Linked DNA regions of Homo sapiens: region 2 is linked to region 1. Evidence: fine-mapped expression QTL. A gene starts in region 1. The other region holds a variant in brackets. All regions are shown on one strand. Distances are from middle to middle.

What was found.
Region 2: its variant is fine-mapped to the expression of DNAH10 in fibroblasts (GTEx, PIP above 0.99).

Annotation. Positions count from the first base shown.
Region 1 is chr12:123,760,427-123,763,429 of GRCh38, reverse strand. DNAH10 (dynein axonemal heavy chain 10) reads right to left here and starts at 1,129. Exons shown (of 79, transcript NM_001372106.1): 1 at 880-1,129. The coding sequence starts at 1,093. ATP6V0A2 (ATPase H+ transporting V0 subunit a2) reads right to left here. Exons shown (of 20, transcript NM_012463.4): 20 at 1,675-3,003. RefSeq lists a silencer at 1,129-1,548.
Region 2 is chr12:123,907,624-123,910,123 of GRCh38, reverse strand. It overlaps DNAH10 (dynein axonemal heavy chain 10), which reads right to left. Exons shown (of 79, transcript NM_001372106.1): 58 at 682-863. Among named protein-coding and RNA genes, the nearest start is that of DNAH10OS, 26 kb to the left of the region's middle. RefSeq lists an enhancer at 1,988-2,282. The variant C/T (reference allele first, on the strand shown) is at 1,554.

The DNA.
Region 1 (3,003 bases):
TAGCCCAGGAGACTGGACAGCCAGGCAGGAGGTCCCGGTAGCTGTGCTCCAGCTGGTGCTCCTGCGAGGAGGCGGCTTTCGAGGTCCCAGTCTCCTTCTAGCTGTTTCTGAAGCGAGTTGTCCTGCCTCCTCCTCTCACCTGTGCTGGCCCCTCCCTGCCCTCTCAGTGTCCCTGGCCTATCAGAGAGTAGGTGGGGCTGGGGATCCGCCTCCACAGAGGGTTCTGGGACCCTGGTCACTGTCTTTTTGTATTTGCGATGCTAATTTGTTCAACATAAACATTTAAAGTCTACTGTAGTTTTTAAACTTTGTCCTAGCCTTATTTTACTTTTTAGGATATAAGGAGCCTCCAGAAGTAGAAAGGGGTGCTCTTCGGACCCTCCGTGAGAGGCTGCGACCGTCAAGGAGAGTGACAGTGACCTGGGTCCCTGCCACACCTGGGCATGGCTCTACCCAGCCGTTCGGATTATTGCACAGTGGATCTTGACGCCCCGTGGGCCTTGGGCAGGTTACTTAACCCCCTCCGTGCCAGTTTGCTCATCTGTAAAATAGGGATGAGGATACACCCGCCTCGTAGGGTTAAGGAGTTGATACAAGCGTTGGAACCGCACCTGGCACGGGGTGCGGGCTAAGTCAGTGTTTGCTGTGATTTTTCAATCAAGGCCTGACTTTCAAGTGGGCTGTGGGCCCAGGAGGGCAGGGACGGCTGTGATTGCTGGGTTCGCCCGGGGCCTGCACGTGGCGGGCGGCAGCGTTTGTGGACAGCACCTGAGGCCGGGGCCGGACGATGGGCAGGCTCTAGCAGCCCCGGCGCCCGCCGGAGAGGCCGGGACGGGCAGGAGGGAAGCCCGGGGAAGGGAGCGGCGCGTCGAGGCTCACCAATCTCCACCTCCACCTCCTCCGGCACCATAGTGCGGTAGATGAAGAGCGCCGAGGGCCCCTCCTCCTCGCTCGCCTGGTTGAGGAAGTGCAAGATGAGGTCCTCGCCCTGGCCGTCGTCGCGGTTGAGCAGGTCCTCGAAAAGCTGGGGGTCGGTGATGCCGAAAGCCGCATACACGCGGTCGCGCATCCACAGCACCCGCAGGTCGTCCATGGCGCCGCGCAGTGCAGAGGGAGCCGGGCGCAGGGCGGGCGTCCGTGGCAACGGCGGCCCTAGCAATGGGCGCCCCGGAAACGGCCGCAGCTCGCCCCGCCGACGGCGCCGGCGCTGGGGGCTGCAAGCTCGGCAGTGCCCCGCGCCCGGCCCCTCGATCCCGAACCCGCGAGCCGCAGCCCACGCCCCGGCCCCGGGATCTCGGAGGCGCGCACCAGGCCCCCGGGCCGCCGAGGTAGGCTGGTTGCTCCCTGGCCCCGGCAGCGCGCACGCCCCTGGATGCGGAGCGGGACCCTCGCCGCCAGGAGCCGCCCTCGGGCCGCTGCAGCCGAGGGTGCGACCCCACCCCACGCCGACCGGTTTGCAAGCAGCCCGCCCACCTTGCAGATGAAGCTGGGGCTAGAGAGTTGGCGAGACGAAGGTCACAGCACCTCGGCGGTGGCAGAGGCGGGATTAGAGGCCAGACGAGGAGGAAATAAGCCGAGAAAGCACGAGTTCCTCATGGCCTACAAAATCAGGGAAGGAGCAGAGTTCTTTAGCTTTCTTGCCAAACTAGAGCATAATAAAGCAAAACACCCACGTTTAAAAATATAGATATATTTATTTGTCATTAGCAAAAGGAAGTTAAATACTGATAGAAGATGCAAATTTGTCCTTTCATGCATTTGTGGAGCAAAGTACTAACTTGTTCACTGTCATTTCCCCTCACAAGGAGTTGAGCCCCTAGATGACTCAGGCTAACCCTAAGAACCTACCTAGCCTTCTTAGATATTCCCATCAAAGAACAGGTGGAGTGTACTAAGTATTTCTGAAAATTCTAAACCAAATCAGCAAAAATGGCCTGACTGTGGGAAGACTGTTCGTTCAAACTGCCTTATTCCCATCATCTTGATTTGACAGCTTCATAATAACCTTCCTGGATATATTCCCTGTGGCACGCAAGCAAACCCGGCTTTACGTTTTTAATAGAGGAATTTATTGTTTTAAATGCGGACTGTAGAATAGGTGTAGAAGTTGTTTTTCTTTTCCAAAATGTATCAGGCTCTAAAACGTCTGAATATGTAATTCATGGACATCGTAAGGCTGACCTATGCTACAGGTATTCTGTGCCTTATTAAACAACTGCAGAGGGCCAGGCGCGGTGGCTCACGCCTGTAATCCCAGCACTTTGGGAGGCCAAGGTGGGTAGATCACCTGAGGTCAGGAGTTTGAGACCAGCCTGGCCAACATGGTGAAACCCTGTCTCTACTAAAAATACAAAAATTAGCCGGGCACTGTGGCAGGCGCCTGTAATCCCAGCTACTCGGGAGGCTAGGGCAGGAGAATTGCTTAAACCCAGGAGGCAGAGGTTGCAGTGAGCCGAGACTGCACCACTGCACTTCAGCCTAGGTGACAGAGTGAGACACTGTCTCAAAAAAAATAAAAAAATTTTTAAATAAACAACTGCTGAGGGGATGCTGACACCAGAATGTTGTTATAAAATATCCATTCCAGAAACAGAGCAGCATTCAGCGAAAGAGGAGTTCCAAGTCCTTTCGCTGCTGGAAAGTCCGCAGGGCTCACCCAGATCCTATCAGACAGAACACCCTTTGCACTCCTTAACTGACCACGGCAATTACAGTCTCCAGCCCAGCAGGTTGAATCAAAGTCTAGTTTACTGAAGAAATCCCTTGGGTTTTAAGATTCTGTTAACACATGGTAATAAACATCTAAATAAAAACTGAGAAATGTCGTGTCGTGACATTTATCTTTAGGAAAATAAACATATTCAGTATCATCCACACAACTTGCCATCTGTGCTCTGGATCTCTGCTATCAAGGGAATGAAGTATGTTTTAAAAACTGGATACATAATAGGTTCTAGCAAAAGCCTTAACAAACAAAACTGAGCGATAACTCTGGTAACATGA
Region 2 (2,500 bases), 150 kb before region 1:
TAGTGGTTGGGGTCATTTGTGTTGAGATTGCTTTTGTTTTTAAGGGGCTAAGAAAAAGCATTTGATAAGAGTCTAAATAAACCATCAAACACAGCGTTAACTTGTATTGCTTTTCGCAAAGACTAACACCATTACACTATCACCGCCTGGCTGAGCACTGGGCAGGGTCAGGAACTGAGCTCAAGGGGAACTCAGTCCTATAACCAAAGATGGAGGAGAGGCTGGCCATCAGTGATGCTGCCCACCCCCATGCCCACTCCCCAGGGACCTCCAGAAGACTTGACACTGACAAGAGGAGAAAGGGGGGAAGTCAAGGTCAGACTAGCTCTGGGCTTCTGCATGTGCACTGAACAGCACTGGGTGAGATGCACAGAAGACAAGGCTGGGCTAGGTTCCAATGAGAAGATCCTGTTTCCTGACACGGAGAGCTAGGACTAGTGCCGAATCGAACCCTCAGTGGGCACGGCTGCCGCCGCGCATCCCCAGCCACTCTCCCTGGGTCACGTCATGGGGCTGCTGTTTTCCTCTGGTGACCATCAGTTGCCTGTTCCATCCGATACCATCTGACCAGAAGGGGAGGGCCTGCCCACGACAAGCCTCCTTGCCCTCCATCCCTGTCCCAGAGCCTGAGATGCCAGACCGAGATCCACCCTGGCGATTCCCACACGTGGCTACACTCACCTTTGATGTTTTTCACTTGGCTCTGGGTAATCGAATCAAAATCAATCTCCATCAGAGACCGCAGGAAATTCGGGTCGGACATCACGCCCTTGGCTGTTTTCCAGTTCAGCTCTTTGTACCCTTTCATGATGAGGATGCATTCGCAGACCGTCTGCACCTGCTTCGGGGGCTTAGCAAACGACCTGGCAAGAAACCAAGGCACGTGGGTCACAACCCCGGGATGTGGCCAGGATCTGGCCTGAAAGAGAGCTCCAGAAAAACGAGCTCAACCAAAAGACAGTCCCTGGAGCTACTGCTGCAAGCAAACGAAAGAAGCCAGGTCCCAACACAAACCGCACTCCTGGGCGGGAGCGTCCCTAAGGGCAGGGCCGGGTCCCCCTCTCAGGTTCCAGACCAGGCGCCTGGAATGGTGCGGGGGCAGCATTAAAATACAAACCCAGGCCGTCCCCGGAGCGTCTGGATCAGTGGTTAGGGGGCAGCCTGAGCACCTATGTTTTAATTACACCCTCGGCTGATTCCTCAGACTCTAAATGGTGGCTGCCGTCATTATTGTCATTATCATCATCATCATCACCATCACCATCACCACCAACCATTATCTCTCCCCATTTACTAGATGGACAAACAGGGTCCTGGGAGCTTGCATGACTGGCTGTGCTGACACCGCCTGGGAAGCCTGGGGTCCCCGCATCCTGGGCTCTTTCCAGGCTATGTTGCCCCGTAATTGTGTTCTGTGGCTTTGATAAGACTAGATCATCACTCTGCTCCTCCAGAACGCAGATGTCCACTGCCCTTGTTCCTCTGGAGAACCAGAACTGCCAACGGAACAGGAGACAGAACAGCAGCGCTGGTACAAAGGCCAGAGAAGGAAC[C/T]GAACCCATCTCACCGGGGCATCCCACTGCCAGGCAAGGTCAGTGAAAGCCACAGGAGTCTCCCAGACCACGCCATGGAAAGACAGAAGTGGAAGAGAACAGCACAGACAAGGCAAAGCAGGAGAGGAAGGAAAAGCAGGAGAGAAGAGCAGGAGACAGAGGTCCCGGAGGGCATGGATGCAGTGTGGGGGCGGCCAGGCAGGGGCCCAGGCATTTGTGCTCTGGTAGGAGGCTGGGGTGAGCCAGAGAAGAAAGAGGGGGATGGAGGGACAGAGGGGGAGACACATGCACAAGAACAGAGACAGGGAGACAGGGAGGAGACAGAGAGACAGGGAGGAGACAGGAAGACAGGGAGGAGACAGGGAGGGGACAGAGAGACAGGGAGGAGACAGAGAGACAGGGAGGAGACAGGGAGACAGGGAGGAGACAGAGAGACAGGGAGGAGACAGAGAGACAGGGAGGAGACAGGGAGACAGGGAGGAGACAGAGAGACAGGGAGGAGACAGCCTGAGCAGACAGCAACCTGGAGGCTTTCTGCAGTGAGCAAATCCCCCACCCCTCCTGACCCCGGAACCCTCACACACTCCCACACAGACAGCAGAGGAGAGAAGGCCCCATAGTGTACGGACAAGCCAGGGCAACAGCCAGGAGGGAGGGCGCCCACACTTCAGCACAAAGCCCAGTGATGAAAGAAAGGCCCTGAGTCCCCGGGAAAAGGCTCGATCACGCTGGTGTTGGCTGCTTAGGAAAGCGGCGGGGCTGTCAAGTGTCTTTAAAAGGTCCCTTCAGGGTGGATGGAAACCAGGCCCCGGCCACCGCTCTGTGAACAAGCAGGTGGGGAAAGAATGGGGCAGATGTTTTCAGATTCAAGACAGAAGGAGCCCAGGCCTGCGGCGGGGTCCTGAGCCCTTGGGCAAGTTAGGAACCAGCCAGGGCGTCAGTTTCCC